Linked DNA regions of Homo sapiens. The protein of the gene in region 4 interacts with the protein of the main gene of each other region in a pairwise test. Each region holds a gene or a part of one and is shown on either strand. Other genes may lie near its edges.

Region 1 (7,893 bases), on a different chromosome or scaffold from region 4:
AAATTGATAGGCAACAGGAGGCCTGTGTGAATGCTGATCGGCAAAGGAATTATCACATGAACACAAATACTTATTACATTAAGTCACTGCAGGTAGACAAAAACAAACAACAGTTTCAAATATGAGCCTTTATCAAAAGGCACAAGAGTAACTGAATTTTATGTGCCAATGTGCCATCAGGTATTTTTTTCACACCAGTGATGTCAAGTAACTAGCAAAAGGGTAAAGTAAAAGGAGATATTTAAGCAATTAGTTAAATCTCCTGAACCAAATGTGGGATAGCCAACTAGTACAGAATAGCCACCATAGAATATTTTTTAAAGTATAGTACATGAATCTATGTATCATGCAAACAAAGAGAAAACTCACTATTCCTGCACTTTCATCTAACTACTTGCTTTCATGGACCTAAAGAATAGATCCAGTCTCAGTAGTGTATTAATTATAATTTCCAACTTGTTTGGCATTTTATTTAATTTCCAGAAGATGTCATAACATAAATAAAGCATACCTTTCTTCTTCCTTCCTCCTTCCGATCAAAAGCACATTGCTGTTTGCACTGTTCACAGGTCTGAGGTGGTCCATACTTTTTTTCTGAATTTGTGCAACGCTGACACTTGGTACCAATAAATGCTGCAATTATGTTACAGTACTGACAAGGCTTGGGCTGAAAAACATACACATTTTGAGACTTTTAAAAACATTAAATATTTGCGGCATAGCATATACCCAGTGTTGTAGACATATTTCTGGAATTAAGAAAACTCAGGTAAAAAATTTGTTTTCTGTCAAGTTTGTTGCCCTGTCACATGCAATAACTTTTATACCATATTTCTATGCATTCAACTAGTATTTATTTCTAGTCATGTAACTATTACTCTAAGATCGTGAGAAATAGATTTGTGATTTGCATAGTCTGTTAGATAATACAAAAACTACACATAAAAAAGGTTTTAAAGAACGAAAATAAAGGTACATATGTAGAGAAGTCTCATGAATCAAGAATTTGAGGAAACGTCCTTCTACTAATATCCTAGTTACCTTAATGACCATATCATTTATTTAGAAAATGTTAACTTTTCATCACATATAGGTACAAATCATATAAGGAATATATACTGTGAGTTTTCAACTTTGAAAAAATGAGAACAAGCATATTCAACATAAACTATAAAAACATACCTTGATTTTCTTTGATATTCAAAAGATGATTCAGGGCAGTTTAGAGCGTTAAAGTTAGCATTTTTGACCAATAATAAATAATATTGGTATAATATACCTATAATGATTGTAGTATACATATAAGACAATTTGTACTAGGATTGGGTCATGACTTCTGTGAATAAATATCTTTAATTGCGCTGTTTTATAAAAATAGTTCTGAGGAGGCTGTTCTGAAGTGGGCTAAAGTCTGATGATGCAAACTTTATGGATAAGTTCTCCATAACCAAGAATTTGCTATATTTGAATCTCTAAAGAACAGCTTCACAAATTTCACACTGGATTCAATACATGTAAAACAGGTATATAATTTGACTGTTTTTAAATGTTATCACCTTTCCATCAAAGTATCTATAGAAAATGTCTTTCATAAAATATGGTATGTTGAAATATCTAAGAGCATAGCAGTAGTTTTTTTTTTTCGAGACGCAGTCTCGCTCTGTCCCCCAGGCTGGAGTGCAGTGGCAGGATCTCAGCTCACTGCAAACTCCGCCTCCTGAGTTCACGCCATTCTCCTGCCTCAGCCTCTGGAGTAGCTGGGACTACAGGCGCCCACCACCATACCCGGCTCATTTTTTTTTTGTTGTATTTTTAGTAGACATGGGGTTTCACCGTGTTAGCCAGGATGGTCTCCATCTCCTGACCTTGTGATCCGCCCTCCTCGGCCTCCCAAAGTGCTGGGATTACAGGCGTGAGCCACTGTGCCCAGCCAGCAGTACATATTTTTTTAAAAGGTCCAGCTTTATGAAAAATATTAACTGGTAACAATGACATGAAAACATAAGACATACTTACCGTCCCAAATTGCTTCACATTTTGAGCACACTTCTTACAAATTGTGTTAGTTTTGCTGAAAAATAAATTGTATATAGATCATGTTTATGTAGCTTTCTAAAGTAATTAGCACAATGTCAAAATAAAATGAGTCAAAGATTTGTTGTACTTAAAACTTTAATAAGGACCACGGATTTTTTTCAAATATACAAGGATATTTTCAGAGTTGTTTTACCCAAATTAACTTATGACAAATGTTTTTATACATTTTTATTGCATATTACTTTTTGTAAACAAAACATCTTAATGTTTCCTATATAGCTCCAAAATCTTCACACTTGACACTATTACTGCACAGCATTACAATACCAGTGCCTACCTAACCTTCCACTTGGCTACTGTCCAACATTATAATGCCCACACCTATTTATGAAGAAATTATTTGTTCTTTTCTGAGGCTACTTTCTGTATATACTCTCAGAGTGGAACTGTTAAAAATGTTACGTACTACTCCTCTTCTATGTAACAAATTATTAGATTTTCACCTTGGAAGGCAGTTGGTAACACTACAGACCTTTCCTCAGATCCATTAAGGCTTTACCATTTTTTTTTAGTTTAACATAACTGTTTACATTTGCATTTTCATTAGCAAGGCTGTACATTTTCCATGTAGTATTATTCCTTCTCTCATATAAAGTCTAACTGTAAATTAACCACCACTGGTTTTTTTCGCAACATTCTCTCTCCCACCATGTATAAAAGGTTTACAACTTAAAATTTCTGGGGCTAAACCATTTTTTAAAAATACTTTCATAAAAACATGGGATTACAACCCCCAAGTATTCCATAAAGACAACACTTGTCTTTAACAGTCAAAAACTATTCAGTATACAAACCTCTCTTGTTGAAATTCTGATCTGCAGTAAGTACATTTTACAATAGGATGTGCAATCCGACATTCCTGTAATAAGACAATACATTAGTCAGTATCTTTCTGAAAGTCCCAAATCTCACTTTTCTGGTAGAAAACTGTTTACCCAACCTAGTGAAAGTCTAAAACATTTATAAAACCTGGCCCCAACGTAAAGAACTGGATGCTTTATCATATAAGTGGCCAATCACAATATAATTCCTTAGGGAAGGCACAGGTGTCTTTGTCTTTAGTAGACGTGGGGGTATATTACAGACAAATTAAGAAAGCTGTCAGGGCCTATTTCAAGGATTGGTTAAATGTGAAACTACTTATTATTTTGCACCGTTGCTCACAGACAGCATCCAGGCTTTAATGGGATGGGAGGAGCTCCAAATCAGAGCATTCTGTTCCCAAACCAGTCGCTTCGCTTTCCTGGACAGGGAAGAAGGATGCCATCAGCTTTGCGGCTTCGGGTTCCTAGCAAGAAAGTGCAAAAACCGTCCCCTGCCTCCTGGTGGAAGAAGAGGACAGACCAGGCAGAAAACCGAGATGAAAACATCTCCACCCCTGGGTCTCTGCGGCATAGACAGGTGGCTGCCTCACTCAACCCCACTCCTGAGACCCCCAGACGCTGACGGGGCCCGGCACCCTCCTGGGCCGCCTGGAAAAGGGCACGATTCTGCCTCCCTTTCAGGGTCCGTTCCCAGCTAATGTTCAAGCCCCCAGAAAAAGGGGTCCCCGAGTGGGGAGGCGAGGGCTCCAGACTCCCAAACCCCTGAGGCGCCGGCGAAGAGGGGCTGCAGTGCAGCGGCTACCCGGCCCCCTCCGGCTACGGCCGAGGACACCCATCCCGCCCGCCTCCCGGAGCCCACGGACCTTGCAGAGCTGCTGGCCCTGGGAGAGCTCCTCGAAAGGATAACGCTGGGTACACTTGGTGCAGGCGTACAGGGCCGAGGCCGCCATCCTGCTCCTCAGTCTCCTCCTCCGCCGCCGCCCGCTCCGAGGCGGGGCCCTACGGAGAACCCGAGAGCCGCCGCCGCCCGGGCCGCGGGCTCCTCCTCCTCCCCCTCCCCCTGCCTCGCGCCCACCAGGGCCTCGCCGCGAGAGCCCAGGGCCCCGCGGACGACGCCACCGTCTCCCTCCGCCTCCACTTCCGCCCCAGCCCACCCAGTGACGCCGTGCCAGCCGCTCCCGCTTAGGCCCCGATAGCGGCGGAGGGAGACGAAGCGGGTAGGGGGTTGCTGTTTAGCTGTGCGGCCGTGGATCCGCTTCCTTCTCGGCCTCCCTTTCCCATCCCTGATTGGCTGCGAAGGCTATCGCGTCATTCGATGGCTCCTCCCAACTCCCAACTTCCGCGACGCAGGAAGCGCCCACAAAGGGAGGATGTCGCCGGCCAATGACATCCCGGAGCTCTCAGCGCGCGAAATCCGCTTTGAACCTGCCCCGCCCAAAGGTCTGCGGTCGCGGCTATTTCTAACAGCCAGTCCCAGGTTTGGCTGAGAGCGCCCCAATCCAATTGAGCAAATGTTCGCGAAAGGCTCGTTCTCTGCCGCAACTTTTTTTCCCTTGCTTTCTATTGGACTAAATCGTTAAGTCCCTCCTAATCCTATTTGTTATTGGCCAAAAGGTAAATACTTCACCTGGAGAGGCGTCCCCGAGGCAAATTCACGCTCTCTCCGGCGTTTAATCCGAGGGAACTCGTGGAGTGCTTTAACTTCGCCTTCGCTTTTGTTTTATCTCCATTACTCCCTTCAGTTGCCACTGGCGACACCACTACTCGCCCACGCTTCTTACTGGAGGAGGCCCGACCCTCCGTAGAATCCCCGCAGAGCCGGCCTGTAACCCCGGCGTTGTCTGCCCCAGCGGGCCCCGTTACGCGCTACCTTGTGACGTCACCAGGGAAGAGGCGGATTCTCTCCTACTACAGAAAGACGTCTGCTGTTTTGATTGGCTAGGAAAGACGTCCGTTAGGACGTGTTGCCCTTTCTGTGTAAGCTGTGAGCGTAGGCGGCCCTGAGGGGGTGTGTTGCAGGGGTTTCCAAGCCCAGCACCAGCACCCTTGCCCTTTTCCATCAGGGGTTCAGCCTAGGGTCCCCGCTGGTGGGCGGCTCCCGAGTCTTGGAGAAGAGCACGAGAACCTAGACCGCCCCCGAAGTGCGGAGACCCCCTGGGCAGGCTGAAAGATGGCGGCGGCGTCTGTCTCTGCGGCTTCTGGTTCTCACTTGTCGGTAAGAAGCAGTTGGCGCGAGTGGGCCCCACGTCGGCCCTAAGCGCCTCTTTGAGTTTCCTCACGTTTCAGGGCGCTGTCAGTCCAGCTTCTGACGCAATTCTGGAGGTCGGCGGGAATGCCTAGATTGCCCCGCGCTCCCCAAGCTTCCATTCACTGTGGCTGTGTCGAAGCTGCACCCTCTGGCTCCCAGTGAAACTGGGCTGGCCGCCCCTGTTCCCCAGCCCTTATTCACCTTTTGGCGTAGCAACCAACCCCGGTTGCCTAACATTCCCAAGGGCCGGCTGGGATAACTGCCCACTCCCTGGCCTGCAAAAATGTAGCTCTTTTGGTCACGTGGGTTCAGCGGCCCCTCTAGGAAACTCGCCAGATCAGGTGAGGCGCGCCAGTGTGTTTAAGAGACGTTGCAGAATAGTAGTCCGCCGTCTCTCGAGCGCTTACTAGTCGTTGCTTATGCTGTTTCCTATCCCTGCAGTGCCTCCCACTCCCATCCACATTAACTTCGTTGTGTGATGCTCGTAGCCAGAACGCGCGCTTCCTGTCACCTAGAATTACTGGAACTTCAATGTGGAAATGCCCTTTTGGAGAGGCGACAGGGGGAATTGATTTTAAATATTGTTTTCGCCTCATCAAATGTCACCATCCAGTTTAGTTACTGGTATTCACTGGTATTTCTCAAATTGGAGTGTCGAATGCTTAGGTTTTTGAAAACCGCGGCATTGGAAAGCTTTGATAGGAAGTAAATGTTGGAGCTCTTATTTCTCCAGTTAGCAAATGTTCGATGCCTGGTATACTGTTAGGGTCCAAATGAACAGAATAGAAACCCTGCTTTGAAGGAGAAAAACACTGAAGAGAAACTACACGTAATTAGTGATTACTGCGCAGTATAGTTTAGGAAGTGCTACCGTAGTAGAATAATCTAGAGGGGAGTGATTAACAGTGCTTGGGTAGGCTAGAGAAGGTTTCCTAGAAGGGAAGATGGAGCTAGTTGCGTGTCGAAGGAATTGTGATTGCTTGTCCCAAGAGTAGAGAAAGGAGAAAAAGGCAGTGCGGGAATTTTGGAGTATGTGCTAGAACAGTAGGTGCTTTTAGGAAACTTGAGATAGTTCGGAATGAGAAGAAGTAATACGGAGGTAGAGCTGGATGAGGTGAATTGGAAACGTAGGTAAAAACGTGAAAAAAGAAGGATGGTGAGGGAAGGAACTAGAAGAGTATCAGGGTAAAGTTATTTTCTAGGATCTAGGGGGAAAGAGTTGGAAACGCTAAGAAAGCCTGGTCACCTTGGAGAAGTCAGTTTCAGCTTTTGGAGACTTGTTAGAATTTGTAATAATGGGACTAGAAGTATTACAGTGTTTCAGCCGAATGGGAATTAGAAGTTTGCAGAGAGGTCTGGGGAAGTTAAGGAGAAGTAAGGAAAGCAGCAATTTAAGGTTATTCAGGATTAGGTCAGTAAAAGAAAAAAGTAAAAAACTATTGGAAGTGTCAGCAGATGGATGAGATTTTATAGGAGATGTGATTAAACTTGGGAGAAGAGGGCTTTTCACGGCTCTCAAAAGTTAAGCACTTGGAGACCGAACAAGGAATACTCTTACAAATGTTGAATTGAGTCTGGGTGCGTGGCTCATGCCTGTAATACCAGCTACTAGTGAGGCTGAGGCGGGAGGATCACTGAGGCTGAAGTGAGGTATGATAGTGCCACTGCTCTCCAGCCTGGGCGACAGAGCGACCCTGTCTCCATAAAATAAAATATTAAATAAACGTTTAATTGAGCTGCACTATGCCAAGGACACCTAGGTGAGCATTGGCACTGGGATATAGTCAGCTGTTAATACTTATACGGTACCCTTGACAGAAATACCAAAGACTGTTCATTAGGAAAGCATATTTTTTTTGTGCTAAGCTCAGCTTTAATAGGATTCTAAATATCAAGGGTACACTAAGAATATCTAGGAACCTCCACAAATCAAAGTATAACAACCATAACTCAATCTGCTACATCAAAATGTCTATTTTGGAAGTTACTGTTTCTCAAAACAAAAATGACTAAATTTAGTTGGTTTCTTGGTGCGTAAGAAAACGTCCTGCTTAGATGTCCCATCAGAAATAAGGCTGCCATTTCCAACAGCGTTGGAAAAGCACTTAGCTTATCAAACAGCTGATCTTAACAGTAGGCAACATTTAAAAAAAAAAAAACTTGTTAAAACTATACCATGAACTGAGAACACAACTCGTATTCAGATTTCACGGTTATGAAGATTAACAACTGTTATATTCAACTGTTTTCGACATTGATAAACTCATACGGAGCTAGTTATAAGTACATTGAGATGCTTTACAGGCAAAGATTTTTAACAAGTAGATTCATAAATAACCGTCTTTGGGAAGCAGTGACCATGTAAATCTCAAATGTGAACAGCATGGAAGTAGGGCGATAGGTTTCAGTTAGGTTCTAGGTAACGTTTATTGAGTGATTGCTCTGGAATTGATAAACTTCGACTGGTGGAAAAGGCAGGAAAGCAACTATGATTGGGCATAATGAAATTAATTCCATATGGAGGTATGGGCAGCATTGTGTTGAAATACACAAGAATGTCTTTCATGTCAGCCTTGTAATATTTTCACAATAACCTTGGTGATTAATGACCTAATCTCTTGATTTGTCCCTCTGACTTTTGGTCCTTCGACCAAGCTGCACAGTAGCTCCATATTAATTTCCCTTAAAAATGTTTTATGGCTATCATACATTTTATAATATTAA
Region 2 (7,542 bases), about 37 Mb from region 4:
AGTAAAGCTTGCATCAAAGTTAGCAAGGGACACCCCAAACCAAATTTTAAAAAGGATATCATCCAGCAGTCTTGAAGAGGGGTGGGGGTCAATGAGGCTGGGATGAGGGAGGAAGGTGGTGGGGAACCCAACCTCTAACTAACAATTTCTCCAGCATAAAAATGAAACATCAGATTCGTTAGCCCAGGGCCTTCATTTTTCCCCTTCCACATTATAACTAGTTATTGAACTCGCTGGAAGATCTAAAGGCCATTTGCGAAGAGACAAATTTCAATGGAGTTTCCCCATCAATAACCCCATGGCAGTGAACTATTGGAACAAGTCAAACACCCGAGGTGAAATGCAGGTCACTCTGTCTAACCAATATTAAAATGCGGCCACTTTTTAAAAAGCCACTTTAAACGAGATTTGAGGAAAATTGAATTCCAAGGAAGGCAAGGCAAGGCAAGAGAAATCCATGAGAGGACCTTGCCTAAGGTCTCCAAACAAACAAGAGAAATTCATCTTTAATATTTTAAAGGGGGGCAAATTAACATTCCATGATTGCTTTTTTTTTTTGAGACTATAAGCGATTCCAGGAGAAGAAAAAAGGTTGAGTATTTTCTGGTGACACATCCAGGTTATTAAAATCATTTTAGACCAATTCATTACTTTTACTGACAAGAGATTTAAGAAAAAATCAATTAAGATTTGCATATTCTTTTGCATACATTAGCCCTGGCTGCCGGCATTAGAAAGGGACAAACACATACACACACACACACACACACACACACACACACACACACACACACACACACACGAAAAAAATGGGCTATGAGCCTTGATTTAGTTTTGGGTTTTCAAGTTGCCCAAAGGAAAAAAAAATCAAAGTGAAATGAATTGCCTGATTGCATACCATCTAAAATTCAATTTATATGAGTGAAAGGAAACAGAAATGTTGCAATTTTTAATCCCTAAAACAACAACAACAACAACATTCACACACATAAACCCTGCATTTCAAAGAGTAGGGAAAGGAATGACCCTCATTTTCCTTCCCTTTGCCCTCCAAATCCTGAATTGGTTCACCCATTTATTTTTCTCCCTTGGAAAAATCAGAGAGGGGTACGATTTTAATGCAGCAGAGAATCTATGGAGCCGCTGAGCTCTCTCAGCCGGCAGCTTGTTACTGGGGAGGGGAGGAATATGGGTTATCCAACGGTCAGTATGGTAATCCAGGCACAATAAGGCCTCACACACAATGGACACATATTTTTCTTCAGCGATGTCAGAAGGGAAGCGCTTTGTACTGAAACGTGTTTCCGAAAGAGAAACCAAATCGAGATTTAGAAAGGAGATGGGGTGGAGGGGCAATTGCAGAGAGCATTTGGATGCTGGCAAAAGGTAGTCAGAAAAAATAAAAATAAATAAAACTGGGGCAAAGTGAGGTTGAGGACAGGGCAGAGGTGCAGCCCCTGGGCCAGCAAGGCGGGAGGCAGGAGGGTGAAACACAAAAGAAGACAGGACCAGATACAAGGATTCATCACAGATGAGAGCTGCTTTAGTACCCCCACCCCCTCCCAATTAAGCCATTGCTAAGTGCAAAAGCCCTTCCAACGGATTTTATTTCTGTGCTTGTAATAATATCCAGGTGAAAATGTTTGTGTGTATGTGTGTGGTATTTTACCCATGTGACAGGCGACTTCCTTGCTATTAAGCTATAGGAGCCCAAAGAGAGTTGCTGTTGTTGTTTTGTAAATGATGTAGATGAGTGTGGGCACATTTGGGGGAATCTTGGAGATTTCACTTTCTGGATGTGCATGTTGAATTAGCTGCACGAACCTGGAATGAAAACTCTACATATTTATAGCTGCATAAAGAGGCATTTAATATATTAATAAATATTAATAGTGTGCACGCATATATGTTAACCATAATAACCAAAGACAGACTTGACATTCAGTTGGGGGCATCTGAACCCTCTGTGTCTACTACTTATACTGGCCCAAAGTCAGTCTCCTTGACCCCCCTGCAGAAGCTCAGAAACCTGGCGGGGGTGGGATGTGACAGGCAACATATTGGGGAGGACTCCTTAACAAGTACAGGAGGGTGAAGATTGAAGAAAAGAGGGTTAGCGTCAGGGCACGGATGGTAAAAGGTGAGTGTGAGGGCTGAGAGGATGAGAGTCAGGCTCACAGCTCACCTTTCCAGGTGAGGCAGCCGCATCCAGGTACAGGCCTAGAAGGGAGACTGGGAGTGGGGCCGGGAAGGTTTCCTCCCTCTTCATCAACCCTCTCCACATGGCACCAAAGTTTGCTGAGCTTTGGACTTCCCGGTGGAGCCATCTGGGACTACAGTTCAGACTTAGGTACTAGGATTCAGCACTGGTTTCCCTTTGCCCTCTTCCAGCAATTTATAATGAACCCACCCCCACCACCAATGATTAAGACAACCCCACACAACCCAAACCACTATTAACCAAGCAGTAGCCTTCCTCCGCCCCCTCACTCACAGTCTCAACTTCCTCTCCAACCAAACCAGCCTGTCCTCACATGCAGAGAGTTCCGGACAAGAGTGGGCAAGGGTTCTCAGCCAACTCTGAGAATTTGGGAATCTCCATTAGAGGTGTTCAGCCTCTGGGGAACTCCTGTTCCTTCACCTGGCCTGGTTACAGTGGGGATGGGCACTGTCCTCTTGGAGAGAGAGTATTCAGGGACCACCAAGCACCAGCTCCTTGGGAGCTAAGCCCTGGCCCTGCTGAGCCTGGGGTGGGGCTGGGGGCCTAAGCATTGGAGGAGGGAAGGCAACGAGGGCCCAGGCGGGAATCCGCACCCTTTGGGCACGGCTGTGGGTCCAGCTTCCCTCTCATTCCAGCCCTTTGGGGAAGCCCTAATTTGGAAGTGGGGACCCTCTCCAACATCCCAAAGGTGATGAGAAAAGGATTGGAATCTCTTGCCTTCAGTCTCCCTCTCACAAGGGCTTTATTTTTTTTTTCCCTTTCCCCTCCTCATTCCCTTAATTGCAGATGTTCTAATTAAACCCTCAAATAGTTGTTATGCCGTTTTAAAAGGTACTTATTCAAGTGTCAACCAGGCTGGGCTGGGAGGAGGTAGCGTAGGGCGGCGAATTAAAGGTAGATTGACTAATCACGGCGGCGATCATAATAATAAAATCAGAGGGAAAAAAAATCACATTACGACTTTTCGTGGAAAGGAGGGAGCAGGCAGCCAGCGGCCGCCAGCCCTGCGCCGCCGCCGACACAAAGAGTGCGGGCGATTCCGCGAGACTGATTTATGACGTTTTACAGCCCTATAAAAGCTGTAGCGACGAGGCAAGCGCTCCTACCACCGCTGGCAGATTTAGTCTAATAAATAAAACATAAACAGTTAACTTTATGTGTCACTTTTATTGTTATCAAGTAAAATATAGCTGAGCCCTGGCAAGCTATGATTTTAAACTATAATTGTTATCAAGTACAACAAGGGGACCCGGCTCCCTCCCTGGGCTCTCCCCTCCGCTACCCCCCGCAACTCTGAGTTATGGGCGATCAGTTAATTGGAATCGGTGGCATGACAGGACCACCCCTAGCTGGGGGGGGGGGGTGGTGGTTAGGAAAGCAGCTTTTCCTGGCCCCCTCCCTCCTCTACGGCCCTGTCACCCCCCTCCATCAGAGTATTACTGTGAGTGGGTGGCAGAGAGAGAGCAGGGGGTGTGAATGGGCTGGAGACCCCAAAGGCTGGCCGTGCCTCCCCAACTTGGTGAGCTTAGCCTTCCGTTTTTGGAAAGCAGCCTGGAGCTGGCCTTTAGGAATTCGTGTTTACATGTAAACACACGTGTTACATGGATACAGCTCCTAGCCAGAAGCAAGCAGGCTCTACCCACACAGGCCTCCCTCTTAGCTAGGTCTGCCCTCTGTGGGGACAGAGAAAGAACTCTCAGGATCTTGGCTGGGCACCATCACAGGGCACTGACTCCTGGCAGAAAGCTCTCCTCCTTGCCCCAGCTCCTTGGAGATAATTGTCAGAAAATAGCAGGCCGGGCTGAATGGGGAGTGGAAACAGAAGCCAGCAGTAGAAGAGATCCTCTGCTCTGGGGCTGGGGCAGGGAGGGTCAGTGGGTAGCAGGGGAAGGCGAGACTTCTGAACTCTGCTTTTGCCAACCACTTCCTGTCTCTCTTCAGCGGGGGCTCAACCCCCAGACCTCCAGAAATGACGTCAGAATCATTTGCATCCCGCTGCCTCTACCTGCCTGGTCCAGCTGGGACCCTGCCTCGCCGGCCGCATGGCCAGAGGGTTGGGTGAGTGTGTATGGGGAAGAGGGGCTGGACTCTGGTATCCTTGGATGGGGGGCACTCCAGGCTCTCCAGCCTCCTCGGCTCAGCCTGGGCCCCTCCCCATCCAACATCCACTCCAGTCCTCATTCAACTTCCTCTTCCTGCGAAAGAGGGGCGCTGCCCCGTGACCTACACAGACTGAGACACGATCGCCATGAATGGAGACCTCTGGAAAAGCTCAGGAGCCGAGGCCCACGGGGCCCAGCAGAGGCCTGAGGGGAGACCCTGGGCGGGGGCTGAATCACTGCCTCCCGACAGTCCCCCAATGCCCGGGCTTTGGAGGGGAGCCGGGAGCTTCCCATCTCCTTTTGCAGGGGAGGGTTGTCAGTCTGGCGGGATGTGCACTGGGGGCACTCCAACCTCTGCTAGCTAACCCCACATCACCACCCACCCCCGCCTCCCAGCACCACCACCACCACACACACAAAAAAATTGGATACATTTTGAATAAAGCGATTCGGTTCCTTATCCGGGGACTGGGTTGCTCCGTGTGATTGGCCGGAGGAGTCACATGGTGAAAGTAACTTTACAGGGTCGCTAGCTAGTAGGAGGGCTTTATGGAGCAGAAAAACGACAAAGCGAGAAAAATTATTTTCCACTCCAGAAATTAATGATCATGAGCTCGTATTTGATGGACTCTAACTACATCGATCCGAAATTTCCTCCATGCGAAGAATATTCGCAAAATAGCTACATCCCTGAACACAGTCCGGAATATTACGGCCGGACCAGGGAATCGGGATTCCAGCATCACCACCAGGAGCTGTACCCACCACCGCCTCCGCGCCCTAGCTACCCTGAGCGCCAGTATAGCTGCACCAGTCTCCAGGGGCCCGGCAATTCGCGAGGCCACGGGCCGGCCCAGGCGGGCCACCACCACCCCGAGAAATCACAGTCGCTCTGCGAGCCGGCGCCTCTCTCAGGCGCCTCCGCCTCCCCGTCCCCAGCCCCGCCAGCCTGCAGCCAGCCAGCCCCCGACCATCCCTCCAGCGCCGCCAGCAAGCAACCCATAGTCTACCCATGGATGAAAAAAATTCACGTTAGCACGGGTAGGCAACTTTGCTTTTTGCTCCCCCCCTCCCTCCCTTCTTCCCTAGCGCTCCCCACCCTCCTCGGCCCCCTCTGGCCCCCGTCCTCCTTTCTCTCCTTCCCCCTCTCTCTCCAGGAGCGACTCTGGGTTAGCACAATTGAACTGGATTTACGAGCGAGAATGGGTAATTACATCCCCCATAAATTTTATGGCTTAGCTACTCTGGGCAGTCCGAGCCATGTGCTACGATCTGTTATGTATGTGTGAAAACTATGCTCGCTTTCTAAGGGCGCATAAATAATTCAGTGTCGTTACAATGAGGATTCCCCTCTTATTACACTACAAAGTCTTCAGCTTCCTTCAACTTCTTTATAACCCATTTAAGCTTGATGACTTTATTTCCACCACTCCCTCCTCCTGTTTCTCAGAGCTGAGGATGGGGTGAGGGTGGGGGGCGGGGAGCCTGCTGCCTCTGAACCCCACTATTTGCTTTTCCCCTCCCCCCAGTGAACCCCAATTATAACGGAGGGGAACCCAAGCGCTCGAGGACAGCCTATACCCGGCAGCAAGTCCTGGAATTAGAGAAAGAGTTTCATTACAACCGCTACCTGACCCGAAGGAGAAGGATCGAGATCGCCCACTCGCTGTGCCTCTCTGAGAGGCAGATCAAAATCTGGTTCCAAAACCGTCGCATGAAATGGAAGAAGGACCACCGACTCCCCAACACCAAAGTCAGGTCAGCACCCCCGGCCGGCGCTGCGCCCAGCACCCTTTCGGCAGCTACCCCGGGTACTTCTGAAGACCACTCCCAGAGCGCCACGCCGCCGGAGCAGCAACGGGCAGAGGACATTACCAGGTTATAAAACATAACTCACACCCCTGCCCCCACCCCATGCCCCCACCCTCCCCTCACACACAAATTGACTCTTATTTATAGAATTTAATATATATATATATATATATATATATAGGTTCTTTTCTCTCTTCCTCTCACCTTGTCCCTTGTCAGTTCCAAACAGACAAAACAGATAAACAAACAAGCCCCCTGCCCTCCTCTCCCTCCCACTGTTAAGGACCCTTTTAAGCATGTGATGTTGTCTTAGCATGGTACCTGCTGGGTGTTTTTTTTTAAAAGGCCATTTTGGGGGGTTATTTATTTTTTAAGAAAAAAAGCTGCAAAAATTATATATTGCAAGGTGTGATGGTCTGGCTTGGGTGAATTTCAGGGGAAATGAGGAAAAGAAAAAAGGAAAGAAATTTTAAAGCCAATTCTCATCCTTCTCCTCCTCCTCCTTCCCCCCCTCTTTCCTTAGGCCTTTTGCATTGAAAATGCACCAGGGGAGGTTAGTGAGGGGGAAGTCATTTTAAGGAGAACAAAGCTATGAAGTTCTTTTGTATTATTGTTGGGGGGGGGTGTGGGAGGAGAGGGGGCGAAGACAGCAGACAAAGCTAAATGCATCTGGAGAGCCTCTCAGAGCTGTTCAGTTTGAGGAGCCAAAAGAAAATCAAAATGAACTTTCAGTTCAGAGAGGCAGTCTATAGGTAGAATCTCTCCCCACCCCTATCGTGGTTATTGTGTTTTTGGACTGAATTTACTTGATTATTGTAAAACTTGCAATAAAGAATTTTAGTGTCGATGTGAAATGCCCCGTGATCAATAATAAACCAGTGGATGTGAATTAGTTTTACGTCAATGTCTGATGGTTTCTTTTTATTCCCCTCCCTCTCTGGCCTGGTAACATCCCATCTTCTCTATAGTTGCCTAAGTTTACTTTAAACAAACACACAAATCTTAGCTCTCCATTAGTCTTCCAATGTCCTTAGAAGAACAAGCAAGGGGGTTGGGGTATGGGATCTTCAGAAGAGGGGATGTGGAAGATTAAGGCTGATTTCTCCAGTCCCCTTCCTTCCCCCTGAGTCTGCAGAGAGACCAGACTCCTCTGGGGGCACTTCAGTGGAGCTGAGGGTGGGGAGTGTCTCACTTTTCTATAGTTAGGTACAGTTTCTTCTTTTTGTCTTTTCTCTCTCTTCCCTTCTCCCTCCTCTGTGCTGAGTAGGCCTGCCTACTTTGTAGACAAGGGGGCAAGTTTAGGGAGTGGGAAGGAGAATAGTTTTCTTTCATCTTTTAGGGCTCTTTTGGGATGAGGGATTAAGGAAGACATCCCCTCAACATTTGAGTTCTTAAAAGAAGGAAGGT
Region 3 (7,651 bases), on a different chromosome or scaffold from region 4:
CTATGGATACAAAAGACAAGAGGACAACTCTACTGTGGTTACTCTAACGTTAAGAATTATTGGAGGCTTGCTGGGCGCTGTGGCTCATGCCTGTAATCCCAGCACTTTGGGAGGCTGAGGCAGGTGGATCATGAGGTCAGGAGATCGAGACCAGCCTGGTTAACACGGTGAAATCCCATCTCTACTAAAAATACAAAAAGTTAGCCAGGCGTGGTGGCGGGCGCCTGTAATCCCAGCTACTTGGGAGGCTGAGGCAGGAGAATTGCTTGAACCTGGGAGGCGGAGGTTGCAGTGAGCCGAGATCGCACCACTGTACTCCAGCCTGGGTGACAGAGCAAGACTGTCTCAAAAAAGAAAAAAAAAAAAGAATTATTGGAGAGAAGAGGATGAACCAGTGAGGTGGAAGAAATACCAGGAGAGTATGTTCTCTCCAATGCAAATGAAGAAAATGTATCCAGGAGGAAGGAGTGATCAACCAGGTCAAATGCTACCAAAAGGCTAAATAAGAGAAGGACTGAGAATAACCATTAGGGTCCAGCAACACCAAGGCTATTGATGACCTTGACAAGAATAGTTCAGTGGAGTGTGGGAGTAAAAGATTGGCCAGAGGGATTTAAAGAGAGAACAGGAGAAAAAAAATTGGACGCACTTAGTATAGACAGCTATTTCAAGGAATTTTGCTGCAAAGGTGAGCAGAGGAATGGGGCAATAGCTGGTGGGGAAAGTGGAGTCAAAAAAAATTTTGAGATGGAGTCTTGCTCTGTCGCTAGGCTGGAGCGCAGTGGCGGGTGCAATCTCGGCTCACTGCAACCTTTGCCTCCCAGGTTCAAGCGATTCTCCTGCCTCAGCCTCCTGAGTAGCTGGGACTACAGGCACACGCCACCATGCCTAGCTAATTTTTGTATTTTTAGTAGAGACGGGGTTTCACCATGTTGCCCAGGATGGTCTCGACCTCTTGACCTCGTGATCCGCCCACCTCAGCCTCCCAAAGTGCTGGGATTACAGGCAGTAGCCACCATGCCCGGCCTCAAAAAAAATCTTTTTTAACATGTGGGTTGATACTTCACTCAATAGCTGCAGCTTATTGGTTGCTTTCCCAGTCTATTCTACCTCCAAAAGCTCTCCCAGATTTTTGTCTCTCCAGCCTGTTACCCCTGCCCTATGTCAGGCCCTCATCATCTTTTGTCTGCATTCCTACAGTAATAGTCCAGTGTGTCCTGCAGGCTGCCACCAGCAGAGTCAGCCTGAAAACCACTGGGCACAGTTCTCCCTTGCTGTTTCCTTTCCTAAAGGATGGAAATTGGATGCCTGGATGAGGGATGGATGCTGTTTCCTGTGTATGAATCAGGGTCCCAGCAGGAAAGACAGAACACACCCCAGTGAGAATAACGTGAGAGGCTGGGGGTGGTGGCTCATGCTTGTAATCCCAGCACTTTGAGAGACCGAGGCAGAAGGATTGCTTGAGCCCAGGAGTTTGAGATCAGCCTGGGCAACATAGTGAAAAGCCCCCTATACAAAAATACAAAAGTTGGCTGGATGTGGTGGCGGGTGCCTGTAGTTCCAGCTACTTGGGAGGCTGAGGTGGGGAGGATCACCTGAGCCCAGGGAGGTTGAAGCTGCAGTGAGCTGTGATTGTGCCACTGTATTCCAGCCTGGGCAACAGAGTGAGACCCTGTCTCAAAAAAAAAAAAAAAAAAAACAGAAAAGAAAAAAAGAATAATGTGAGACTTGACTAAAGGGACTGTTTCCATAGGAATGGGCAGGGTATAGGGAGATCACAAGGGTTAGTGCAGTTTCCTGAGACTGCTAACATGGCCTGTTTCCCCTAGGACTGAAGAAGGTCCCTGGAGGGGAGGGAATGGGAAGATACAGGTTCTGGAAATCTCAGTGAGGCTGAGGAGTGAGTTCCTCCCAAGAACCTGGAAATAAGGGTGGCTCCTGAGAGTTACAAAAAAACCCGTCTAGAACACATGTGGGAGTAAATCCAAAATGGCTGGTCTGTAAATGTGTGACTGAGTGTTTGGGAACCAACTAAAGTCTGTCAAGGGTGGTGGCTGAGGACGCCTCGGGGAGGTTGGGCTGGAGGGGGACCCTATTGGGTGAACAGAAATCCCAATTGTATTAAGTAAACTAATAAAGGTAAAGCGTTTACTGTAGTGTCCATCACTCAGCAAGCACTAAGGAAGTAGATGCTTTTTTTTGCTTTTTTTTTTTTTTTGTGAGACAGCGTCTCGATCTGTCCCCCAGGCTGGAGTATAATGACATATACAATGGCACCATCTTGGCTCACTGCAGCCTCTCACTCCTGGCCACCTCACCTGGCTGATGCTATCTTTTTTTTTTTTTTTTTGAGATTGGAGTCTTGCTCTATCACCAGGCTAGAGTGCAGTGGCACAATCTCGGCTCACTGCAACCTCTGCCTCCTGGGTTCAAGCAATTCTTCTACCTCAGCCTCCTGAGTAGCTGGGATTACAGGCATGCGCCATCACGCCCAGCTAATTTTTTGTATTTTTAGTAGAGATGGGGTTTCGCCATGTTGGCCAAGCTGGTCTCGAACTCCTGAGCTCAAGTAATCCACCTGCCTTGGCCTCCCAAAGTGCTGGGATTACAGGTGTGAGCCACTGCACCCAGCCCTGATGCTATTGTTAAACTCAGTTTGGAGAAAGGCTATGTGGACAGAAGATAGATCACAGGGAAGGGGGGGGTCCTAAAAGCACGTGGGGAAAACGTATATTCTGTCTTAGAGATGCTAGGACGAACTGTCTTTAGAATGAAGGCTGCCCCATGACAGGAAGCAAGGTTTTAAGGTTACTTGACTGAGAGACTCCTCATACCCTTTCCCCTCTTGGGGGTTCCAGACTCACTGAGCTAACTTTCTGGTAACTGGGCTTCCCAAGGGGTAGCCCAAACTGCCTTGATCTATTGATGCAGAAATTCAGTTCTGCTTGACAGTTTTATTTCTCTGTGCAAATTGATACCTAGCCTTCTGGGGTTTGTACATAGGCCTTTATTCTGGTCAAATGCCAGACCTGCGAAGGGAGTCGGATCCACTCACTGAACCAGTGAAACTGGGTTTTGGAGCCAGAGGTCTGGGAACCATGTCCCTCAAAACAGCCAAAGGTATCCATCTTTAGCAGAACTACCTTGTACCAGTTAATCTGCAATAAGTGACTAGGGAGAGAATGAAGGGAAGATCTAGCTAGACAGGGTAGACAAGACTCCAGGGTATAGCCAGGAAAGGGAGTCCTCCTGAAGCCTTTGCCTCATCTTAGGCACTTCCTCCTTCAGGAAGCTTTCCTTGATCCTTGCTCTACCCAGGCTGGGGTAGGTACCCTCATGTGCACTTTTCATGGCACTAACTAGTCACACTGGGCAGGGAGCATTTGTCTACTTGTCACAACATATCTGAGCTTTTGGAAAATAAGGATAATGTCTTATTTGTCTTTGTAGCTCAGGGGCCTGGTGCAGAGTAGGTACTCAGTTAATGTTTCTTGAGTGCATGACTTGGCTGAATGAATGACTGAGACAGAATGGATTGATTAAAGACAAGAGAGGGTGGACTGTAAGCCCCCCAGGATAGAAACCCCGACTGCCTTGTGGTGTACTACTCCCCAGTGCCCAGCACAGTGCCTAGCAGAATCAATGCCCAAAGTGTTCCCGATATGCTGACCGAGGGTCAGATCCCACTTGCCTCTTCTCGAAGATTCTCTACCTGACCACTTCTCTCCTTGCTGCCGCTGGCTAGCACAGAACATCCAGTCCCCGCTGCTGTACTAAGCAACACGGAACCGGGTGGCACCTAGACTTGTTCCCTGTCGCTGCAGATGTAGAGTAGTGTCTTTCCCTCCTTCCAAGCTAGTCGCCCAGGGCAGGGTCGCCCTGTCTGGCTAGGGTGCTGCACCCGCAGCTCTCGGTATCTTAGGTCAGACGCCTGGAACGCGCAGGCCGTTTCTGTTCCTCCGGAAAACAATCTCTGAGCTGCGCCACGACCCGTCCCTGCGGAGCAGGAGTGGGGAATGGGAAGGTGGGAAGGCGAGTCCGCGACTCTGCTCCCCAACCCCAGCTGGCGCGGCGGCTTTCCACGCACCCCCCTCCCCCCACCCCGATCTCCCGATCCTGGCTCTGGCGCGGTGCTCCTTGCAGCCCCACGCTTTGCAAACTTTCGGAGTTTTACTCCATTTGCGTCACGGAAAAGGCAGGAGGATGACGGAGTCCAGGAAGCGAGGCAGCGGCAGCTGGCAAGCTCCCCCGCCGGGCGCTCCAACCACGGGGGCGTGAGGTGTCTCCCGGCGAGGGCGGACAGGCGGAGGGAGAGGAGGGGAGGTGGCGGTCCCAGGGACCAGCCCCGGAGGCTCTCGGGCCCCCTCGTTCCCGGGTCGTTTCCTCCCTCTCGCCTCCCGGACTGAGCGCCAGCGAGCGAGGGCGCTGGCCAGCTGGGAAGCCGCGCGGAGGAGTAGGCGGGGGCTCGGCTGCAGCGCCCCGGGCCCGCGGGAGGGCGGAGCTGGCCGTCCCTGCCCCGCCGGGACGCACGGAAGTGCAGCGGAGTTTGCCCGATTCTCCAGCCTGCTTCCCCCTCCCTCCTCCCTCTCCCCACCCCTCACCTCCCCTTTGGCGATCCCCTCCTTCCTCAGGACGCCACCTCCCGGAATCGCCTTTTTGTTTTGGAGCTGCCTTCTCGCTGGCGGAGCGGAGGGTCTGCGAGCGCCGGGGAAGGCAGGCTGGGGGCGCAGCCCGCCCCCCACTGGCCGGGCCCCGCAGGGCGGAGAGGAGGACGGACGGACAGACGGCTGGCCGCGCCATCTGCTCGCCGGAGCTCACTCTCCAAACTCCAAACTGTTGAGTGTGTGCGTGCACGCGAGGGTGGTGATCGGGGGTCGTAAGTCCCGGGTGAGGAACCGGTTTCTGCTGGGGTTACCTTTGGACGGGGTTCCTGGGATTCAGAGCAGGGTCAGCGTCAGGCTCAGAAACTGCTGAGGAATTAGGCAAACAAAAGAGACCACTCAGCGAGTGGCTAGAAGTCGCCCGACAGCCTCGTCGCGCCCCCTCCTTCCTCCGGGGTTGGGGCTGGCCACTTCTGGGGCGGGGAGAGGGCGCCCGAGCCGGCGGGGGCTCCGGCTGCGCAGCCGGGGTCGAAGAGTTGGCGGCCTGTTGTGTAAGCCTCAGTCCTTGTTTTCCCGGCCTGGCTCGTTGTGAAGCCGGACACATCCACCCTTGGACTCGATTCAGGCGGCTGCTGCTTTTCTCCTTGCCCCTCTTGGATTTTCCGGATTTTTGAAAACCCAGTGGCCCAGGAGCAAGAGGAGGAAGGAGGAAGGGGCAGATCTGCAGAGGAATGTGAGAGCCTCCCAAAGCGAGAGCCGCCAAAAGAATCTGGGAGCCAGAGGGACAGCCGAGCCCTGCCCGGGTTTCTGGAATGGTGGTTTCAGAGTGAGTCTCTTCTATTTTAGAACGTTGTTCCAGTGGAAAGTGTCGAATTTTTCCCCTCGCAGGGCAGATTTCTCCAGGTCACTTGACTTTTCTTCTGGGAGTAGGAGTTAGGAGAGATTCCCCTCTAACCCCCCAGAGGCTGCTAAGGGAGGAGGAGACTGTGGACATGAGCCCTCCCTGCTCACAAGCATATGCCCGGAGACCTGATAGGGCAGTTTCTGGGCCATGGACATTGCTTTGAAGAGGGGGAGACTGGACAGCATCTGTGGGTGCTGAGACCCCACCTTAGGACCTGAGAGATTGAACTGTGTAAGCGCCATTCAGCTGCGAGTGCATTCTTGGACTGCCTTGTGAGCATCCCCGGTCTGGGCAGGACCCTCTCCTTCCCATCTTTCTATACCACCCAGCCCAGCCATGGCACTGAAAGGCCGAGCCCTCTATGACTTTCACAGTGAGAACAAGGAGGAAATCAGCATCCAGCAGGATGAGGACCTGGTCATCTTTAGCGAGACCTCACTGGATGGCTGGCTGCAGGGCCAGAACAGCCGTGGGGAGACAGGGCTCTTTCCTGCCTCTTATGTGGAGATCGTCCGTTCTGGCATCAGCACCAACCATGCTGACTACTCCAGCAGCCCTGCAGGCTCTCCCGGAGCCCAGGTGAGCTTGTACAACAGCCCCAGTGTGGCCAGCCCAGCTAGGAGTGGTGGGGGCAGTGGCTTCCTCTCAAACCAGGGTAGCTTTGAGGAGGATGATGATGATGACTGGGATGACTGGGACGACGGATGCACAGTGGTGGAGGAGCCACGGGCTGGTGGGCTGGGCACCAACGGGCACCCTCCCCTCAACCTCTCCTACCCTGGTGCCTACCCCAGCCAGCACATGGCCTTCCGGCCCAAGCCACCACTGGAGCGGCAGGACAGCCTGGCATCTGCCAAGCGAGGCAGTGTGGTGGGCCGTAACCTCAACCGTTTCTCATGCTTTGTGCGTTCTGGAGTGGAGGCCTTCATCCTGGGTGATGTGCCCATGATGGCCAAGATCGCTGAGACATACTCCATTGAAATGGGCCCTCGTGGCCCCCAGTGGAAGGCCAATCCCCACCCATTTGCCTGCTCTGTGGAGGACCCCACAAAACAGACCAAATTCAAGGGCATCAAAAGCTACATCTCCTACAAGCTCACACCCACCCATGCTGCCTCACCCGTCTACCGGCGCTACAAACACTTTGACTGGCTCTATAACCGCCTGCTACACAAGTTCACTGTCATCTCGGTGCCCCACCTGCCTGAGAAGCAGGCCACTGGCCGCTTCGAGGAGGACTTCATCGAAAAGCGGAAGCGGAGACTCATCCTCTGGATGGACCACATGACCAGCCACCCTGTGCTCTCCCAGTACGAAGGCTTCCAGCATTTCCTCAGCTGCCTGGATGACAAGCAGTGGAAGATGGGCAAACGCCGGGCGGAGAAGGATGAGATGGTGGGTGCCAGCTTCCTGCTCACCTTCCAGATCCCCACCGAGCACCAGGACTTGCAGGACGTGGAAGATCGCGTGGACACTTTCAAGGCCTTCAGTAAGAAGATGGACGACAGCGTCCTGCAGCTCAGCACTGTGGCATCAGAGCTGGTGCGTAAACATGTGGGGGGCTTCCGCAAGGAATTCCAGAAGCTGGGCAGTGCCTTCCAGGCCATCAGTCATTCCTTCCAGATGGACCCCCCCTTTTGCTCTGAGGCCCTCAACAGTGCCATTTCTCACACGGGCCGTACCTATGAAGCCATCGGGGAGATGTTTGCTGAGCAGCCCAAGAATGACCTCTTCCAGATGCTGGACACACTGTCTCTCTACCAGGGCCTGCTCTCCAACTTCCCTGACATCATCCATCTACAAAAAGGTAAGGCCCAGTGCAGGCAGGAAACTCGTCCTGAGTCTGGCTCTCTGCTGGGCCCTGGGGAGATGGGGATGGCCTGGATAGAATGGAGCAACTTGTCTTTATTTCTCTGTCTCAATCATTCATTTAACAAATGTGTTGGGCTGGGCACGGTGGCTTACGCTTGTAATCTCAGCACTTTGGGAGGTTGAAGTAGGAGGATCACTTGGGCCCAGGAGGTTGAGACTACAGTGAGCCCGATTGTGCCACTGCACTCCAGCCTGGGTGACAGAGTGAGACCCTGTCTCTAAAACAAACAAACAAACAAACAAACAAACAAATGTGTTGAATATCAACTCTGTG
Region 4 (7,905 bases):
AATTAAAGGACTTGTCAGCCCCAATCCTAGATTCTTACAGTGCAGGAAATGTCTCTCCTTTTAAGTGCAAAACCATAACATTACCATTTCCCCAAGTGCTCTCTGTTTTAGGCTGCTTTCCTAATTAGAGGGATGATAACAGCCCTGCTGATTGGCATTATAAAAGCACTAGTTTGGCTTCATCTGTCCCAGGTGTGCTGTGTAATTTTTTTCTTCTCACCGTTTCAGAGCACTACCTCTCTCCTTCATTGTTCCTTAAAGTTTTCATCTGAGGAATTAATACAGATAAAAAGACATTAGAAAGGAAGCACCACTGCCAAAGCTCATCACTGAAACCTTTTATCAAAAGTACAAACTATACAAGTTAGAGGATTTTTTTTTTACCCTTTTGTTTCTGAGGGTTAAGGGGGTGGGGTGGGGGTGGTAGTGTGGAGAGGAAAGGAGAAGAGAGGCTGGGGGAGAAAACACAGCTCTGTCAATGGACTGAATGCACCATTAAAACTGGCGTCACTACAAAGGTTAGAGCAGATCTAACTGTCAATACAGTGAGTAGAGTGGAGTCCGGTAAGGGGGAGCTTTGGTGAGAGATACTTTGATATTTTGGAATGTTAGAAGGGTGAATGTGAAAAATTGGAGGTTGGGGATCTAATTACCCAACCATAATTGGGGGCTAGGGAATAAGTTGCAGTCCTCTCAACTCACCGCAGATCAATTATGTTAAGAGAACATCTGTAAGTAGAACTTAATGAGGTCCATTAGAGCAACATGTACAGCCTCCTCTAACAGTACTTGTCAGCTTCTTGGATGAGCTGAAGGAAGCTGCTAACTAGGGACCTGGCGAGGTGTTTAAATACTGGAGGAGCAGCTCTGGCCCACTCAGGTTTTGTATGCAGTTCGGGAAGAAAGTGAGAAAGGGAGAGGCACACAAGAAAGACAGGAAGCCTGAAGCAGAGGTTTCTTTCATTTGTGTTGCTGAATTTCGAAGAGTGATGGTGGGAGTGTGTGTGGTGGGGGCAGTATCAACCTCATCCTTCCCTTGACCGAGACCTTTCACTGCTCCTGGACTTTCAGGGTGTGCTATCCTTTGCCTCCCCCCAACAACCTGTCTGCTGCCCTAAAAAAAAAATTAAAAAAAAAAAAGACGGCAACCTAACCGGAGCATCTCTGGGACGCCACAGAAATCGTAACTGAACACCCGCACACAAAAGTAATCTGTGAGGTGTGTTTTAAAGAAAGAAACAGCTGAAAACTTGAAGACGTGTTTAGAAATATACATATATACACACTATTTTCTTGTGGGAGATCTCCTTTGGGCAAAGGTAAGTAGTATATATCTAATCACCCCCTCAGCACCCTCCTCCACCCCATTTTGTCATTCCCCTCCCCTTTTCCCCTCATCAAGGTATCACAATATAAGACCCCTGAAGAAGACAGTCTGCCTTTTTTTTTCCTTTAATAAGTGTTGGGATGGGGGCTGGATGAAGTAAATTCTCTCATCAAACGTCTGATGATGAGTTGCAGAAAGAGGGCACAGGCAAAAGGTAATCGGACCAAAAAGATCTGGCTCTTTATAGCAATCCTTTCGCAAAGATTTCCAAAGGATCTGTAATTAAACTGGGTAGTTTACTCTCAGGAAATGAAGAAACTGCTTGCCTGGCTGGATCCAACCTTTAGCTTGGCTGAGTAAACAAAAGCACAAATTCTTCTTTCACTTTTTCCCTCGCGGGAGGGGTGAGACTTTGGGGTTGGGGGGAGCCAGGAAAACAGGGAGTTTGCTGAGGGTTAATGGTGTTTTTCGCAAAGTGTCAGCAGAAGATGATTAAATTCCACCTCTTGTTCACCAGATCACTTTGTGTGCACTTGTATATTTCATTGTCGGCAACCGCTGATGATCACATCTGTGCAGTACATTAAGTGGCAAGCCTCTTCATCTGCACGGGGTTTTTCTGATGATTTTTTCTGTGAATAATTCATATGATTATGAAGAGAAAAACTGCTATTTTCTATCTCTCTCCCTTCTGTAGCACAGATTAAAAAAAATCTTGCTGTAAATTGCGTGATTGGGGAGATAGCCTGCTTTCAAATAATTTAATTCATGACAAAACCTAATTACTGTCAGGTAATACCCTGTCAGCTTTAATGCATTTCATCAGTCATAATGAAAAGAAGAGCATTTTATGACCCATCTAATTATCATTACATTTTAGGGGAAAATGAATGGCATGGAGCTGAATGTTAACTATTCCATTTTATTCCTTTACACATGTGGTTTGGCATATTATTCGCTAAGTTCCTCTCTCTCTCTCTGTCTCTCTCTCTCCTCTGTCTCTCCTTCTCTCTCTCTCTCTCCTCCTTGCTTGGCAGTATTACTTGCTTATAAGTGTGGGGGAAATGGTAAAATTGAGAGGAAAAGGAAGATTGGGGAAAAAGGAAGAGGATGGGATGCACTTAGAGATCTGGGTGTTTGTCCCTTAAGAAAAAGGTGACAAAGTGGTTAATGTCTTTGCAGGTTGGTGTTGATATCAGGAATCTTACTGCCACAGTCCAAATAGAGTACTAATTACCGCGAATGATGTCACCGTAGGCAGAGGAATAATCCCATCATTTAATTAGTTGAATGATTTAAACAAAGATTTGCATAGATGCACTAATCAGTTGCCATGAATTACAGAGCAGCAGTTGCCAGCGAGGGGTAACAGATCATACAGTTGGAGGGAAAAAAAATCTCATCTCCTTGAACATAATTAATTTAATTGTCCTCATTAGCTGTACCATTTGTTTTGATTTTATTTCTCCCTTTCCCCACACATACTTCTCCCTCCCTCCCTCCCTCTTTTCTTCTTCTCAGTGCATTGGCTGAGACAGAGCGCACGAGACACACACACATGCATGCACACATATGCACACACACACACTCACACATACTGGGGTGTTTTCAGAGTGGCTGTAGCAGAGAGGTGGGGTAGAACAGTGGGGAGCTGTGCGGATGGGTGAAGTGCATGTATGCCTGCCTAGACGGGCCAGAAAAGCCAAACTTAAGAAATCTGCCTATGTACAGAACAAGTCAACTAAGGGGTTCTCATTAATCTACCGTCTGTGAATATCGTTATTTTTCAGGTTAGTTCTGAGTTTTGTTGCCTTTTAAAGGGAGAGGAAAGCAAACCACAGGCTATTTTATTATGAGCCTTCAAAAGGGAGGGGGTAAAAACTAGTTATCAATGTTGTGCCTTTATTCTTTATGAAGAAAAACAAAATTTAGCTTAAATACTCATGGGGGGGGTGCTTTGATTTTTTTTTTAAAACTAGAGCTAGATTAAAACTGATGGTGAAGAGAAGAAAAAAAGTTTTTTGTAGTTCAACAATTGAATATTTCTTGGCTCTTAAACATTTCAGTGAGTGTCTTTCAAATGTGGACCATTTTTAAGCTTGACCTCTGACAAAGCTTTGTAAAATCTGGTGAGGGTACTTTAAGAGCAGCCCAAACAGAGGGTGACTTTGAAGTTTGAAAACTTAGAAAAATAATAAGGTATTTTAAAGCTACCAGTGGCCTTTATAGATGCCAAGGAAAGTTAAGAGGAGAGGAGGTTAGAGAGAATGGGACCTATTAGAAAAAAAAAAAAAATCTGTCAAGGCCTTAAAACAAGCCTGTGAAGACAAAGCAGTAATGGTGCAGAAACTATGGTTCTTTGACCAAGTTAGTCCTGAAAACATGTTTCTCAGTGCTGTTGGCTGTTTTTCATTGGAGCGTGTGAGTTTTAAATAGTAAGGAATTCAAGTAATTGCAGGAAGTGTGTTTCGGGGTGGTGGTGGTGGGGGTCAGCATTAGTGAATGGAGAACAAGTTCACAGTTTGGGTCTTGGGCCATTAGAGGAAGGGAGGAAGGGAGGAAGGAGAGTGTGTGTGTGATCCCCTGAACCAGGCTTGTGTGGCGGACTTGCGGAGCAGCGACTTCAGAGAGTTCATGAATGGAAGTCACAGACAGACCAGCGACTGCAGCCACCTCCAGGCATTTCTTAAAGGGGAGGGTTGTGTGCTTTTTCCAGGGTATTCTGGTAGCAGTTTGATTCTCTTGCTTTTATTTTAATTTCCATAATTGGTAGCTTCAGAAATGGCTTTGGAAGGCAATTTGCTTTAAATGTAGCCACCTATTCCAAAATGCCCTGGTTATTTTAGGAACCCTACCCTTTTCCTCCGGAGCTCTCTCGCAGGAGTTCTTCTTTTGGACTGGTCCAGGAGGTAGGGTCCTTCCTCAGTCGACTCCTGCAGAGGTCACATTTTGTGTGCGGGTTTGTCCCCAGCGTTTGTGAGTAGCATATGCATGTGGTTGTGCTGACTGCACTCGCAGGCTTGTAAATTTTCACCCTGGGAAATTAGCAACAAAGCCCGATCTGTCTCGTGGCTGCTTTGCACTTTCCGAGGGCGGCTGTACTTGACTGAGCTGCAGAACAGGCACACGAGAGCGAGCGAGGGAGCCAGCGAGAGAGGGAGGGAGAGAAGGAAAGAAGAGGGGAGGGGTGGGGGCGAGAGGTAAATAGTCTTAAATCGGAAGGGAGCTGCTTCTCTGTGGTCTTGACAAGCGCTGCCTGGGCTCCGCCGGCTCACTAATAACTGAGTGACCTTTTCTTTGGCTGTATTATGTCTGGCTGGGAAGGGATTGCATTTTGCAGCTGAGAGCCGGAGCTTCCTTCAGCTCGGCTCCTCGCACGCTGCTGGGGTAAGTTGTCTTGAACCAGGACGGAGAGAGACAGCCTCGGACTGCAGTTGCCTAAAAGGAGGACACCTGTGGCTCAGATGCGGTCAACACCATTGCTTGGCGTATCCTTGAGGACCTCATTATTTTAAACTTAAAAAAAAATAGACATTCCCTCCCCCGTCTTTTTTTTTTTTTTCAAACAATGCTTCTTTTTGACCTTTCCCAAGGAGAAGCGCTACAAAGCAGCCACTGTGCTTACTGAACGGCCTCCCCCTGTATCGCTTAATTGAGAAGGTAAGTGCAGCAACTGTGTACACACGCGTCGGCTTATTTGTGGTGTGTGTGTCTGCGGGTGCGCGCGTGCGTGTGCGGATGTGGGTATTTTTTTCTTCCCCAACCTCTGCTAATGAGGCATAAACTGGAGCTGCAACCCAGCTCCGCACTGCAACTTTCACTCGGGCTGCAGCTCTACTGAGACGGTTTTGTTTAAATCATGTGAGGCTTCATTATTTTTATGATGAGACATGAAATAGATGCAGGCGGAAGATGTTGATGGAAGGAGGGAGAGCGGCTGCGGCGCGGAACGTCTCAAGTACGACTCGAGTGGATAATAGTCAAAGTTCACCATGAACTGCAGTATTTCCACACCCCTGACTCCCGGGGAGAGAGGGGCAGGGAGAGTTTGGAATTAGGAAGTGTTTGCTCCCAGCCCATAGGAAAAGAATTCAGTCCTGGGTGGGTTTCCGGACCCCTCCCCCTTACTTGCTGGAATTCATGAACCCCCACTTCTTAAAGAGTTGATATTACAATCTTTTGGTCCTTGTTGACGCTTCTGCCTCTCTCCACGCAGCCATAATAACAAAATGTTGTTCCTTTGCCGTGGAAAAGTGGCTGTGTTTGGGCATGGGGGCGGGGGGGGGGGGCAGGCGGGTAGGGGCAGAAGTGGCTAGAAGAGGGAAGGTCCCTGGACCAAGGTGCCTATATCCTAATAGATTGAGATTCAAACTGATGCAGCACATTTTTTACGGGGACTACTCAGATTGCTGTTATGAAATACAAGTCAGATTTATGATCTTTTTCATATTGAACATGATATGCTATGCTAACGCTGCATGTGACAGTTTAATCAAATCCATTTGTTACCAGGAAGCTAAAAGGGGCCGCTGGGATTTTAGGATTACGGGCAGAGTTAGGGAAGCATGTGGCTTTGTCATTCGCCATCATTTTGCACACTGCGAGGGGCTCCGTGTGTGCGCCCTGTCTTGTCTGGCCGTCCTCATCCCTTCCCCCACCCCCTGCCGCCACTCCGACCCGCTCCCAAAGTGGCTTCACAATAGTCGGTCCTCGGCGGTGTAGGCTGCGCACCAGGTCCACACTTAAGCGAAATCAAGGAGACCCCCTTCTACTTCTACCTTTGGGTTTGGTGCTCAATGCGAAGCTGCTGCAACTCAGACACGCCTAAGTCAACTCATGCAGAAAAAGGAGAAAAGTTTTGGTAAGGTTACAGTCTATCATAGATGCACTTTGCTGGCGCTCTGCACTCCTGGCCGCTCAAAAGCCTTTCTGCTTTTCCGCTGCTTTTGTGTCTTTCTGAAAGAACCGAAATATTATTGTTGTAACTGCTTTGAAAGACTGCTGCTTAAACCAATTAATCTTGCTAGATGCAACAAATACTGCTACATTCTTTGCAAACCATCCCTGTGTGGCTGCAAAGACACAACCACAAAAGGCTGGAGCATAAACTCCGCAAGGGATTCTTTGTTAGAGTGTATGTATGTTTCTTATTTTTTTTTTTTATTTTGCATGTGAGCTGCATCAAAATTGAACTCAGTCTTGCAAATCTCTTGTTGGCCTTTGCCAAGCACTAGCACTTTGCTGCCATGGTAACTGTAATTAAACTGATAAGAGTGGAAAAATGTCAGTATCTCTGAGCCTTGCAGCTGCATTGGAGAAAAAGGGAATCAAATTGGTTCCCAGCTCCATTGCTCAAAAAGGGGAGGGGGGTGAAGGATAGGGAAGGGGGCTGGGAGTTGAAGGGGCAGAACAGAGTTAAGCAGCTCCAGTGCCTGAGATCTGGGGACATCTATTTGCATTGTTGTCCCTTAGGGGGCTGCAGCCTGTAGGGATGCTCTGGGCCAGTGAACAGAGAGAAACAAGCTTTTAGGCCCAATCCAGTTTTCCAACCTGGGTTGGGGGCTGGGAAGAGGATGAAGATGGGCAGGAGGAGAGAAAATCTTTTGTCTGGTGCCTCTTGGCAATCGAATGGCCATGTTGGCCAAATTCTTTTAATCTGTGTCAATGCTCCCAGCTGCAGAACCTGCATTCCCATTTTAGCATCTTTCTGAAGCACCTCATCTCTTCCAACCCCCTTTATGTATTCCCTCTTCCTCTTCCCTCTCCCAAATTGTTCTCTGTGAATTTTCCGACGGACAAAATGTTTTCTATTCACTCTGTGTAGTTAGTCCAAAAATGTAAGACTGTGTCTAAGTGCTGCAAATCTTTCATTATTATTATTTTTTTTAAACCCCTGTGTGTTGTGGAGTTGTGGTTACTTTGTTGTGTTAACTACTGAAGCTGAGACTGTGCGGATGAATGGTACAGAACAAGGGAACATAATGGAGGCAATCAACCGTTAGGCCGCTTCACAATGCAATCCAGGCAATTAAAAGCTCACCAGAGTTTAAATGAAATGGTTCTACTTATTTCTGCACACCACACTGCACAGGCTATTATTTATGTCTTTTTTTTAATTATGATTTCCCTTAAACTGTCAAATAACTCAGAATGGCAGGGTCTCAGAGGCAATAAGAATTTCCCTCAGAACAATTTACATGCCAATCTAAAACTAGTTATGAGTTCTGATGTGCTATGAGCAACTTGTGAAATGTTTCTTAGCTACAAACACGTAACTCTACCCAGACATGTTCTTCTGGTGGAAGAGGGGAGACTGCTGACTGCTTTATGCCTTTTAAGTACACGGTAACATGGTGACTACAAAATAGTTCTTTTGCTACAATTGTTAACTTGCATGGAATTCAAGAGATTCCATTTTCAAGAGAATTGCCATGATGTTCTTCAAATAAGGTACCAGGATGGAGTGTGAAATATCAAACTCCTTTTATGCCCAAGGCCAAACAGAATGTAAGAGTTTCAAATATTAATTGGCCTCTGAGTGCTAAATTAAAATGTCAACACAACAAAAACATTTTGTG

What was found.
Region 1: the proteins of LMO3 (region 4) and CEP57 interact in binary tests that used the Homo sapiens proteins (3 or more experiments, as listed by UniProt).
Region 2: the proteins of LMO3 (region 4) and HOXC4 interact in binary tests that used the Homo sapiens proteins (3 or more experiments, as listed by UniProt).
Region 3: the proteins of LMO3 (region 4) and SNX33 interact in binary tests that used the Homo sapiens proteins (3 or more experiments, as listed by UniProt).

What each region holds. Positions count from the first base shown.
Region 1 is NC_000011.10:95,785,608-95,793,500, forward strand, and holds the start of CEP57 (centrosomal protein of 57 kDa), read left to right. Parts: upstream 1-4,890; 5' UTR 4,891-5,091; coding exon 5,092-5,136; intron 5,137-7,893. Other genes in the region: protein FAM76B, read right to left, coding at 512-667, 2,017-2,071, 2,892-2,956, 3,785-3,871. UniProt on the Homo sapiens protein: Centrosomal protein which may be required for microtubule attachment to centrosomes. May act by forming ring-like structures around microtubules. Mediates nuclear translocation and mitogenic activity of the internalized growth factor FGF2, but that of FGF1.
Region 2 is NC_000012.12:54,048,998-54,056,539, forward strand, and holds HOXC4 (homeobox protein Hox-C4), read left to right. Parts: upstream 1-4,837; 5' UTR 4,838-4,925; coding exon 4,926-5,364; intron 5,365-5,852; coding exon 5,853-6,208; 3' UTR 6,209-7,033; downstream 7,034-7,542. UniProt on the Homo sapiens protein: Sequence-specific transcription factor which is part of a developmental regulatory system that provides cells with specific positional identities on the anterior-posterior axis.
Region 3 is NC_000015.10:75,643,262-75,650,912, forward strand, and holds the start of SNX33 (sorting nexin-33), read left to right. Parts: upstream 1-4,650; 5' UTR 4,651-5,841; coding exon 5,842-7,312; intron 7,313-7,651. UniProt on the Homo sapiens protein: Plays a role in the reorganization of the cytoskeleton, endocytosis and cellular vesicle trafficking via its interactions with membranes, WASL, DNM1 and DNM2. Acts both during interphase and at the end of mitotic cell divisions.
Region 4 is NC_000012.12:16,603,148-16,611,052, reverse strand, and holds the start of LMO3 (LIM domain only protein 3), read left to right. Parts: upstream 1-4,890; 5' UTR 4,891-4,987; intron 4,988-5,082; exon of another isoform or gene 5,083-5,239; coding exon of another isoform or gene 5,240-5,285; intron 5,286-5,673; exon of another isoform or gene 5,674-6,163; coding exon of another isoform or gene 6,164-6,188; intron 6,189-7,905.